Linked DNA regions of Homo sapiens. Changing the gene in region 1 together with any one later gene gives a genetic interaction. Each region holds a gene or a part of one and is shown in the gene's direction. Other genes may lie near its edges.

Region 1 (3,655 bases):
GCCACTCTTTTTTTTTTTTTTTTTTTTTTTGAGACAGAGTCTCACTCTGTAGCCCAGGCTGGAGTGCAGTGGTGCAGTCTTGGCTCACTGCAACCTCTGCCTCCTGGGTTCAAGCGATTCTCATGCCTCAGACTCCCGAGTAGCTGGGATTACAGGCGCCTGCCACCATGCCTGGCTAATTTTTGTATGTTTAGTAGAGATGGGGTTTCACTATGTTGGTCAGGCTGGTTTTGAACTCCTGACCTCAGGTGATCCACCAGCCTCAGCCTCCAAAAGTGCTGGGATTACAGACGTGAGCCATCGCACCCAGCTGAGCAAGTGGCCACTCTTACTTCATCTATACTCCCTCATGTTAGATTGTTTTAAAGCAGATCCTAGATGTTATATCCTTTTATCCATAAATATTTTATTATGTATCTCTAAATGATACTCTTTTAAAAAAACATAGTATCATTATCAAACCTAAAAAGTTAACAGTGATTCCTTAATGTCATCAAATATGGGATCAATATTCAAATTTCTGCAGTTGTCTCATAATTATTTTGTAGCTAATTTAAATCCAGATCTAAACAAGGTCTATACAGTGCATTTGGTTGATATGTCTCTTAAGACTTTTAATTTGTAGCTTTTCTGTCACCCCCTTGAATTTATTTCTTGAAGAAACCAGGTTGTTGATCCTGTAGAATTTCTTATGATAGCTACCATTTACTGAGTGCTTACTCTGCTAGGTATTATGCCAAGGGTTGCTGGTAAATCCACTTAATTCTCATACCAATCCTTAGATGTATTATAATAGACCTTTTTCTGATGTTATATATAAGTAAATTGAGGTTTGGGAATATCTAGGTAACTTAGCCGTAGTCACATAACTGGTCATTGGAGGGGGCATGATCCAGATCCCGGGTTTTTAAACCACTAATCTGTTTTCCTGAAAGATCTTAATGACAGAAGCAGCCAGGGCTGTAGGATAGAGGCCAACTCATTAGGCTGGCATTGGCACCTTTCCAACTTTATCCCTACACCTCAGCTGCACAGGATGCCTTCCTGGAATGCCCTTAGTTCTCTATTCAACCTCTTCAAGGCCTTCTCAGCCTTCACACCATCTCCATGAAACCTTTCTTGACCACACCAGCCCATAGAGCTCTGTCTTGCACACACTGCACTGCTCATTTGGTGTTCAGTCACATGCTGTTTGGGGAGGTTTCTTGTTTTTTTGTTAGTATTCCTGCTGTTATTTCTGAGCTCACTTTCTAGCTCTGTGAATACAGGGTCAGCCCTTACGCCACACTGGGGTCCCGTAGATGCTCTTTGTGCGATTAGGGAATGCTAATTAGAATACTATCTCTGGGCTATTTATGCTGCATCAGTCTTCCTGTCAAACAAGTTACAGTTGTGCTTATCTGTATTTCCGATGAGAATCAGGAATTTTTCTTCTGTTTAATGAATTTCTGATTGGTTTCAAAGTATTCTAACATAAGTAGCCAAATTGTACTATAGGCCTTTAAATGAAAAAAATAAAAAAGTAGTCCCAAGCCGGGCGCAGTGGCTCACGCCTGTAATCCCAGCACTTTCGGAGGCCGAGGCGGGTGGACCACCTAAGGTCAGGAGTTCAAGACCAGCCTGGCCAACATGGTGAAACCCCATCTCTACTAAAAATACAAAAATTAGTCATGTGTGGTGGCACGTGCCTGTAGTCCCAGCTACTCCAGGAGGCTGAGGCAGGAGAATTGCTTGAACCCGGGAGTTGGAGGTTGCAGTGACCTGAGATTGCACCACTGCACTCCAGCCTGGGCAACAGAGTGAGACTCTGTCTTAAAAAAAAAAAAAAAAAAAAATTCCAGACCTCTCCTTTTCACCCATAAATCCCTCTGCCCAGTGACAGCCACTTTCAGCTCCTTTCCCCTATGTCTTCTGGTATTTACCTTTGGATTTCTAAATAATAATATTAATTGACTGTTATTACTAATCTGTAATCCTTAGGTAATACCTGTTATATACTAGGTACTGTTCTAAGTGCTTTACAGCCATTAGCTTATTTAATCTCAACAACCCCTATGAAGCAGGGTCTATTATTGTTTCCTTTTACCGATGAGGACACTTAAGCACAGAAAGGTTAAACAGTTTGTACAACCTCACTATCATTAGTAGGTGTTAAAGAACCTAGGTAGTCTAGCTCCAGAATCGGTGCTTGTAATCATACTCCCCTCCTGTATTGTCTCTCATTGCTATTTCTTCGTCTGTCAATTTTAGGCATTATCTGTTAAGCTTTTAGTATGGGATATGAGCATTTAGTCTTCTTACACCATCACATTGGCTTCCTTTCCCCTTTCAGCTTCATAGTAATTTAAAAATAAATCAGTATTCTGTGTTTACATTATTATAACTCTGAAAGATTCATTTACTATCAAGCCAAATAGTGTAGTGTGATTTAATCTATTTTCTTCTAAAGCTTTTTGTTTTTCCTGGAGCTGACAATTGCATTATTTTTTCATTTGCTTAGTTTTCTGGTATTAATCACTAATTCTTTCCAAGCCTTTTGAGAAACTATAAAACCCTACAATTCTTGCTTGAACCCGGGAGGCGGAGGCTGCAGTGAGCCGAGATCGCACCATTGCACCCCAGCCTGGGCGACAGAGCAAGACCCCATCTCAAAAAACAAACAAACAAAAAACCCCTACAGTTCTGTTTTTCACATGGTCAAATGTATCAGCTGCACTATTTTTTTTTTTTGAGACCTAAAACTAGGGATTGCCTAAGCCTTTCCTTTTTAAAAAGTCAGGTTTATATAGGTATAACTTGCATACAGTAAAATTAACCTTTTTTAGGTGTAAGAGTTCTGAGAGGTTTGATAGAATATATCAAGGTATAGGGCCAGCGCCGATGGCTCACACCTGTAGTCCCAACAATTTGGGAGGCCAAGGCGGGAGGATCACTTAGGCCCAGGAGTTTGAGACCAGCTTGGGCAACATAGTGAGACCCTGTCTCTACAAAAAAAAAAAAAAAAAAGGTATCAAGGTACAGGAAATTTCCACTACCCAACAAAGGTCACTCACCCTTTTGTAGTTAATAACTTCTCTGCAACCTAGATCCAGCCAACTACTGATAAGATGTCTGTCCTTGTATTTTACCTTTTCCAGAATGTTACATAAATGGAGTCATACAGTAAGTAGGCTTTTGTGTCTGGCTTCAAGCCTTTACTTTTTATAAAGAATAACAATGGTAATAATTATAGCTGACATTTATTAAAGGCTGAGCGGATACTGTATACTGTGCTACAGGCTTTTCGTGGGTTATCTCATCACTGTTTCACATATGTAGGTATACAGTTCTTTCTTTAAAATATGTGACTGAAAAATATTATTGAACATTATGCTAAAATTTGTTACACTGAGAAGACTAAGAAAAACAGAGCTCATGTTTTCTTTCAACTGATTTCCTTTTTACATTGTACTTGAGTACCTGGAAGCTGCTTGCTTCTTTCCGCAGCTAGGATACAAACTCCCTGACAGTTAAGTGCTTCTTTACTTCCCATCCAGTGCCTTGCACAGGGCTTGGTACATGGTTTGGTCCAAAATATTTGTTGAATAAATTTGCAGATAGCCCACGTGTGTAGGAGAGGGAGAGAAGGTTCTTGAAAAATGGAGATTGGAGGAAT
Region 2 (3,655 bases), on another chromosome or scaffold:
ATATACTTGAGGCCAGGCACTGTGGCTCACACCTGTAATCCCAGCACTTTGGGAGGCTGAGGCAGGTGGGTCATCTGAGGTCAGGGGTTTGAGACCAGCCTGGCCCACATGGTGAAACCCCATCTCTACTAAAAATACAAAAATTAGCCAGGCGTGGTGGTGCATGCCTGTAATCCCAACTACTCAGGAGGCTGAGGCATGAGAATCACTTGAACCCGGGAGGCAGAGGTTGCAGTGAGCCAAGATTGCATCACTGCACTCCAGCCTGGGCAACAGAGCAAGACCCTGTCTCAAAAACAAAAACAAACAAACAAACAAAAATATATATATGCTTGAAAATTGCTAAGAGAGTAGATTTTAGTTGTTCTTACCACACAAAAAAATAAGTATTTGCGGTAATGGGTATATATTTGAGGTAATGGATTTGTTAATTAGCTTGATTTAGCCATTCCACAATGAGTACATCTATCAACACATGTTGTACATCATGAATATACACAATTTTTATTTGCCAAAAAATGTTTAAATATGCCATAAGTAAATTAAATAAAATAAATTTCTTAGAACATTATTTATAAAAATAAAGCAAAAAACCAGATCTGTCCAAATATAACTAATAAACTGACTCTCATTATTTAACACTCAAGAGTTGGCTGGCATCAGGATTTTCATAATACCATGGCCATTAAACAGTTTTCGTGAATCCAGGCCTTCGTTACCCATCTCTTCTGCTTCTTCCTCACCTTACTGACTTCTTTCTCATGTACACAGAGTGCGGAATATCTGTCTCATGAGTCACCAGCCTTTGGGCAGAACCCAAAAAATTAGGTGAACTAGAAATATATTGTTGCTAAGTGGCTCGGTTTATCAGACAATTCTAAAATGCCTACTAGGCTGCCTAGCTGCATACTTTTCTGCCTAATGTACAGGACCTCCATCTTGTGACTGTCAAAACAGGCTCCTAAATTATTTTGCATCATTTGGTGACAGGCAGTCTATACTCTTGTGCAACCAACAGGTGCCCAATAAATGCTTGGAATATGCAAGGAACTTGGCATTGTTTAATATAATTGAAAAAGCAAGCATGGACTTTGAAACTTTCCTGAATTTGAATTCTGTCTCCACTCCTTATCACCTTTAAGAATTTAGGGCCTGGTGCGGTGGCTCATGCCTATAATCCCAGCACTTTGGGAGGCTGAGGCGGGTGGATCACTTGAGATCAGGAGTTCGAGACCAGCCTAGCCAACATGGTGAAACCCCATCTCTACTAAAAATATAAAAAATTAGCCGGGCATGGTGGTGCATGCTTATAATCCCAACTACTTGGGAGGCTGAGGCAGGAGAATCGCTTGAACCCAGGAGGCAGAGGTTGCCGTGAGCCGAGATCCCACCATTGCACTCCAGCCTGGGCAACAAGAGTGAAACTCCATCTAAAAAAAAAAAAGAATTTAGGGAAGTTATTATCTTCCTGCATCTCCTTTCTCCTCCTATGTAAAATGAAAATAATAATGTCTAATTCATAAGCGTTTCATAAGGATATGATGAAAGCCCGATGCAGTAGCTCACGCCTGTAATCCCAGCACTTTGAGAGGCTGATGTGGGTGGGTCACTTGAAGTCAGTAGTTCGAGACTAGCCTAGCCAACATGGTGAAACCCTGTCTCTACTAAAAATACAAAAACTAGCTGGGCATGGTGGCAGGCGCCTGTAATCCCAGCTACCCGGGAGGCTAAGGCAGGAGAATCGCTTGAACTCAGGAGACTGAGGTTGCGGTGAGCTGAGATCGTGTCACTGCACTCCAGCCTGGGCAACAGTGCCAGACTCTGTCTCAAAAAAAAAGCCCGGGCATGGTGGCTCACGCCTGTAATCCCATAATCCCAGCACTTTTGGAGGCCAAGGTGGGCGGATCACCTGAGGTCAGGAGTTCGAGACAGCCTGACCAATATGGAGAAACCACATCTCAACTAAAAATACAAAATTAGCAGGGCATGGTGGCGCATGTCTGTAATCCCAGCTACTCGGGAGGCTGAGGCAGGAGAATCACTTGAACCCAGGAGGCGGAGATTGCAGTGAGCTGAGATTGCACCGTTGCGTTCCAGCCTGGGCAACAAGAGCGAAACTTCGTCTCAAAAAAAAAAAAAAAAAAAAAAGTGATACCACAACAGCTAGAAGAGGAGGCCAAACTGTTTTTTTTTTTTTTTTGAGACAGAGTCTCGCTCTGTCACCCAGGCTGGAGTGCAGTGGTGCGATCTCGGCTCACTACAACCTCCGCCTACCTGGTTCAAGTGATTCTCCTGCCTCAGGCTCCTGAGTAGCTGGGAGTACAGGCGCGCGCCACCACGCCCAGCTAATTTTTTGTATTTTTAGTAAAGACGGGGTTTCACAGTGTTAGCCAGGATGGTCTCAATCTCTTGACCTTGTGATCCACCTGCCTCGGCCTCCCAAAGTGCTGGGATTACAGGAGTGAGTCACCGCGCCCAGCCCCCATTTTACATTTTTTTATTTGTGCCCACTGCCTTTTTTCAGAGGATGCAGTTAGCAATTTCAGCCACTGGATGGTGCAAATTCACAAGAGTCCAGTGAAAGTTCCTCAATTACGGTCCAAGGTGCACCTGTTGCTACACTGCACCAAGTGAAGGAGGGTGGGGTAAAGGAAAGACTTTTTGGATCTGAAATTTCAGTATAAACATGGATCGAAGTTCACTAGAAGTTCAGATTGAGGGAAATTTTTAGAATTTGATCACTGACAAATCAGGTCATTGAATAAGGAAAGACAAAAGAAAAGTGTTGTAATAATGAAGAGGAAGAGAAAAAGGAACAGATGATGAAATATGAGGGAAAATAAGTCTAAAGAGATGAATTCAAGTGTTAGCAACAATTATAGTATGACCCTTTACTGGTTTGCATCTCCCTGGTAACTGATAGCAACTTTGATATAAAAATAAAGCTTACTTCATTCTCTTCTAGAAAGTCAGCTATGCTACCCTTAGCTTATCCATTTGGTGGTGTGACATTATCAACAAATATTTTTAGTATCTGCTATGAACATGGTGCTTTGTTGATACAAAGTAATATAGAGATATACAAATTAACACAGATACTGGGCTTCAAGCAGAAGAACCAGTAAGTACATATAAGAAGATAAGTAATTGACTGGATTAAGAAAATGTGGCACATATACACTATGGAATACTATGCAGCCATAAGAAAGGATGAGTTCATGTCCTTTGTAGGGACATGGATGAAGCTGGAAACCATCATTCTGAGCAAATATCGCAAGGACAGAAAACCAAACATCGCATGTTCTCACTCATAGGTGGAAATTGAACAATGAGAACACTTGGACACAGGGCTGGGAACATCACACATCAGCGCCTGTCGTGGGGTGGGGGGATGGGGGAGGGATAGCATTAGGAGAAATACCTAATGTAAATGACGAGTTAATGGGTGCAGCAAACCAACATGGCACATGTATACATATGTAATAAACCTGGACATTGTGCACATGTACCCTAGAATTTAAAGTATAATACTACTACTACTATTACTAATAATAGGGAAGATAAGTAATTCAAGGCAACCTGAGGGCCATTGTGTCAACTCAGAAAATGGAATACTTTTTGAAAGTGGGAGTGGAGTATCAGTGGGATGGGGAGG
Region 3 (3,655 bases), on another chromosome or scaffold:
TCTCCCCCACCCTCCTCCCTCCCCCTTTATTCCTGGAGGTGTTAGTCTTCAGAGATGTTAAATCTCTATATGCTGAGTAGGTATGGGAGGGTCTATAGCACAAATCAGTCAAATTGTAAATGTCACCCCTCTTAGTTGTTTTTCGCTCGAAAAAGTATTAGCAATGTGTGTTCGATGTGGGAGTACTGGAGTCTACAAGGAGGTAGAAAAGAATAGCAGAAGGACCCTCTATTCTTGGCTAATAGCTCCACACAAGACCATTCACCTCTTAGATCCTGCTGATGACTTCTGAAGGACCCTAGGGCCACCAGGCAGGGAAGGGCTCCAAGGTGAAGAACATGGAAGGTACCCCATCCTTCAGTTGTAGGTTCTTAGCCACTTTCAGCATCCTATAGCATGAGAATCTGATAGAGTAAATGGTGATTAAAATTTAGAAGCACTAGCTTTATTCATAAAATCCAAGAACTGGAAGCAACTCAAATGTCCATCCACAGGAAAATAAGCACATTGTGATATATTCATACAATGAAATTATGCCTAGCAATTAAAAAACAGAACTGCTGACAGGCACGGTGGCTCACGCCTGTAATCTCAGCACTTTGGGAGGCCAAGAGGGGTGGATCACCTGAGGTCAGGAGTTTGAGACCAGCCTGGCCAACACGGTGAAACCCCATTTCTACTAAAAATACAAAAATTAGCTGGGTATGGTGGTGCATGGTGCATGCCTGTAATCCCAGCTACTCAGGAGGCTGAGGCAGGAGAATTGCTTGAACCTGAGAGGTGGAAGCTGCAGTGAGCCGAGATCGCACCACTGCACTCCAGCCTGGATGACAGAACGAGACTGACTCTCAAAAAAAAAAAAAAAAGCTACTGATGCATGAAACAACATGGGGCTGTCCCTCAGAAATAGTGTGTCAAGCCACCGGGCGCAGTGGCTCACACCTGTAATCCCAGCACTTTGGGAGGCCGAGGTGGGTAGATCATGAGGTCAGGAGATCGAGACCATCCTGGCTACCATGGTGAAACCCCGTCTCTGCTAAAAATACAAAAAATTAGCCGGGCATGGTGGCGGGCACCTGTAGTCCTAGCTACTCGGGAGGCCGAGGTAGGAGAATGTCGTGAACCTGGGAGGTGGAGCTTGCAGTGAGCCAAGATTGCGCCACTGCACTCCAGCCCGGGCGACAGAGCAAATCTCCGTCTCAAAAAAAAAAAAAAAGAAATAGTGTGTCAAGCCAAAGGAGTTCATGCTAATGAGTCCATTTATATGAAGTTTAAAAAGAGGCAAAATGAAGCTATGGTGCTGGAATTCAGAGCGGTGGTGACAAGGAGGGGAGGGGCATGCGGGGACTTTCTGAGCTGGTAGAAATGGGCTATATCTTGGTCTGGGTGGTTATATACATTGTGTACATATGTAAAATTCATCAAGCTATAAACTTAAGATTTGTGGTTTTTATTGTGCATGACGTACTTATTGGCAACTAATGAAATTGGGCACCTTTTTATTTATTTATTGGCTGATTAGATATTGAGGCCATTATTTAAGAAATTAAACTAAAATTGGTCCAGGCCCAGTGGCTCACGCCTGTATTCCCAGCATTTTGGGAGGCTGAGGTGGGCAGATCACCTGAGGTCAGTAGTTTGAGATCAGCCTGGCCAACATGATGAAATCCCATCTCTACTAAAAATACAAAAATGAGCCAGGTGTGGTGGTGGGTGCCTGTATTCCCAGCTACTCAGGAGGCTGAGGCAGGAGAATCACTTGAACCAGGGGGGTGCAGGTTGTAGTAAGCTGTGATCACGCCACTGCACTCCAGCTTTTGGGCAACAGAGTGAGACTTTGTCTCAAAAAAAAAAACAAAAACAAAAAAACAGGACGTGGTGGCTCACGCCTGTAATCCCAGCACTTTGGGAGGCCAAGGCGGGTGGATCACCTGAGGTCAGCAGTTTGAGACCAGCCTGACCAACATGGAGAAACCCCGTCTCTACTAAAAATACAAAATTAGCCAGGCATGGTGGCGCATGCCTGTAATCCAAGCTACTCGGGAGGCTGAGGCAGCAGAATCACTTGAAGCTGGGAGGCAGAGTTTGTGGTGAGCCGAGATCACACCATTGCATTCCAGCCTGGGCAACAAGAGCGAAACTCCGTCTCAAAAAAAATAAAATAAAATAAAATAAAGTTAGAAAAAATAAGAGGAGAAAACAGAGATGAAGAATAAAAAGGGGAGACCTCCATGGTTGGCCTATTTACTTAATCAAATGGCTCTTATTGAGAGTGTCACTTCTGCCCTTGAGCTTTTTGATGGCAAAATTGTATAAAGAAATGCAGTAATTTGCTTAATTGTCATTTGAGAGGAAAAAATGTGTCATACACTAGGAGAAAGTTTTCTCTGGTGCCAACTCGTGGTTCACCGTGTACAACTTTAGAAGTGGTTAACAGTTTGACAGCAAAGCAGAAATCATATGACTTGTTTCTGGCATACGTAGATCAAAACTTAAAACATATTTAGCCATGTTAATCCTCTTGTGGTGTAGTTTATCAGCAGTGATTCTTGAAGGGAGGTAGTAACCAAGGTTCCGTGGCTCCTGAGACTTCTTGGGGCCTGATTTGATTAACCCAGGAAGAGTCTCAGACCTCATGAAGTACTGCCAGGTCTGGCAGCACTTGGCCAAAGCGGGCAGGTCTGTGTTGAGGTTGCTTTATGCAGACTAACAAAGGGATCATTCTGCTGTGTACCTGTCCCTATTCTAGACCCTGGTGGGCAGCAGTGGGACCATTCTGACCACAATGCCTGTAATGATGGGGCAAGAGAAAGTGCCCATTAAGCAGGTACCTGGGGGAGTCAAGCAGCTTGAGCCCCCCAAAGAAGGAGAAAGGCGGACAACCCATAATATCATTGAGAAACGATATCGCTCCTCCATCAATGACAAAATCATCGAATTGAAAGACCTGGTCATGGGGACAGACGCCAAGGTGGGTGCCAAGCAAAATTGTGTTTTATGTTCCACCATCTCCCCTCTACCTGTTTTTGCCTCAGGAGCCTAGAGAAGTCCCAGGCTCAAGGTAAGTGAATACAAGACCGAGTTAGAGGTGCTTTTTTATTAAAGCATCTTGGTGTCATGTCAAGATTATAAAATATTAAAAAACATAAGGGACTGGTGAGGGTTGATAAGGCAGTGACCCGCTGAGACCTTTGACTCCTTTGGCTATGCTCTGCAGTGATGGGGACTCCACTGTCAGAGGCAGAGAAAGATGCCTGCCACTCAGTAGTTCCAGATACAGGACTGTGTGTACCTTGGAGTCAGCTGATGGCATAGTTTTAGCTGTGTTTAGGGGTTACCTTTTAAGGAAAAGAAAGAAAAAAGAGGTTGAGTCTTTGACCAGCAACACATAGAGGAAACTGATGTTCCAAATGTTTCTGGTGTTTCAGTGTATGTGTCTTCTAGAAAGTAGGAGATTTTATTTTTAAAACCTATCTATGTTTAAACCCTATTTTGAAAGAAAATTTCATTTTCCTTGCCTACAAATCTGAAAGCTGTACATCCTAAGTAAAAATCTATGCCTTAAGATAACTGTCCAGGCTAGGCACTGTGGCTTACGCCTGTAATCCCAGCACTTTGGGAGGCTGAGGCGGGTGGATCACGAGGCCAGGAGTTC

What was found.
Region 2: changes in HDAC3 (region 1) and ACACA together harm fitness more than expected from each alone (negative genetic interaction), as found in Homo sapiens cells (one large-scale study listed by BioGRID).
Region 3: changes in HDAC3 (region 1) and SREBF2 together harm fitness more than expected from each alone (negative genetic interaction), as found in Homo sapiens cells (one large-scale study listed by BioGRID).

Annotation. Positions count from the first base shown.
Region 1 is NC_000005.10:141,630,201-141,633,855, reverse strand, and holds part of HDAC3 (histone deacetylase 3), read left to right. Parts: intron 1-3,655. UniProt on the Homo sapiens protein: Histone deacetylase that catalyzes the deacetylation of lysine residues on the N-terminal part of the core histones (H2A, H2B, H3 and H4), and some other non-histone substrates.
Region 2 is NC_000017.11:37,396,775-37,400,429, reverse strand, and holds part of ACACA (acetyl-CoA carboxylase 1), read left to right. Parts: intron 1-3,655. UniProt on the Homo sapiens protein: Cytosolic enzyme that catalyzes the carboxylation of acetyl-CoA to malonyl-CoA, the first and rate-limiting step of de novo fatty acid biosynthesis.
Region 3 is NC_000022.11:41,871,049-41,874,703, forward strand, and holds part of SREBF2 (sterol regulatory element-binding protein 2), read left to right. Parts: intron 1-2,749; coding exon 2,750-2,971; intron 2,972-3,655.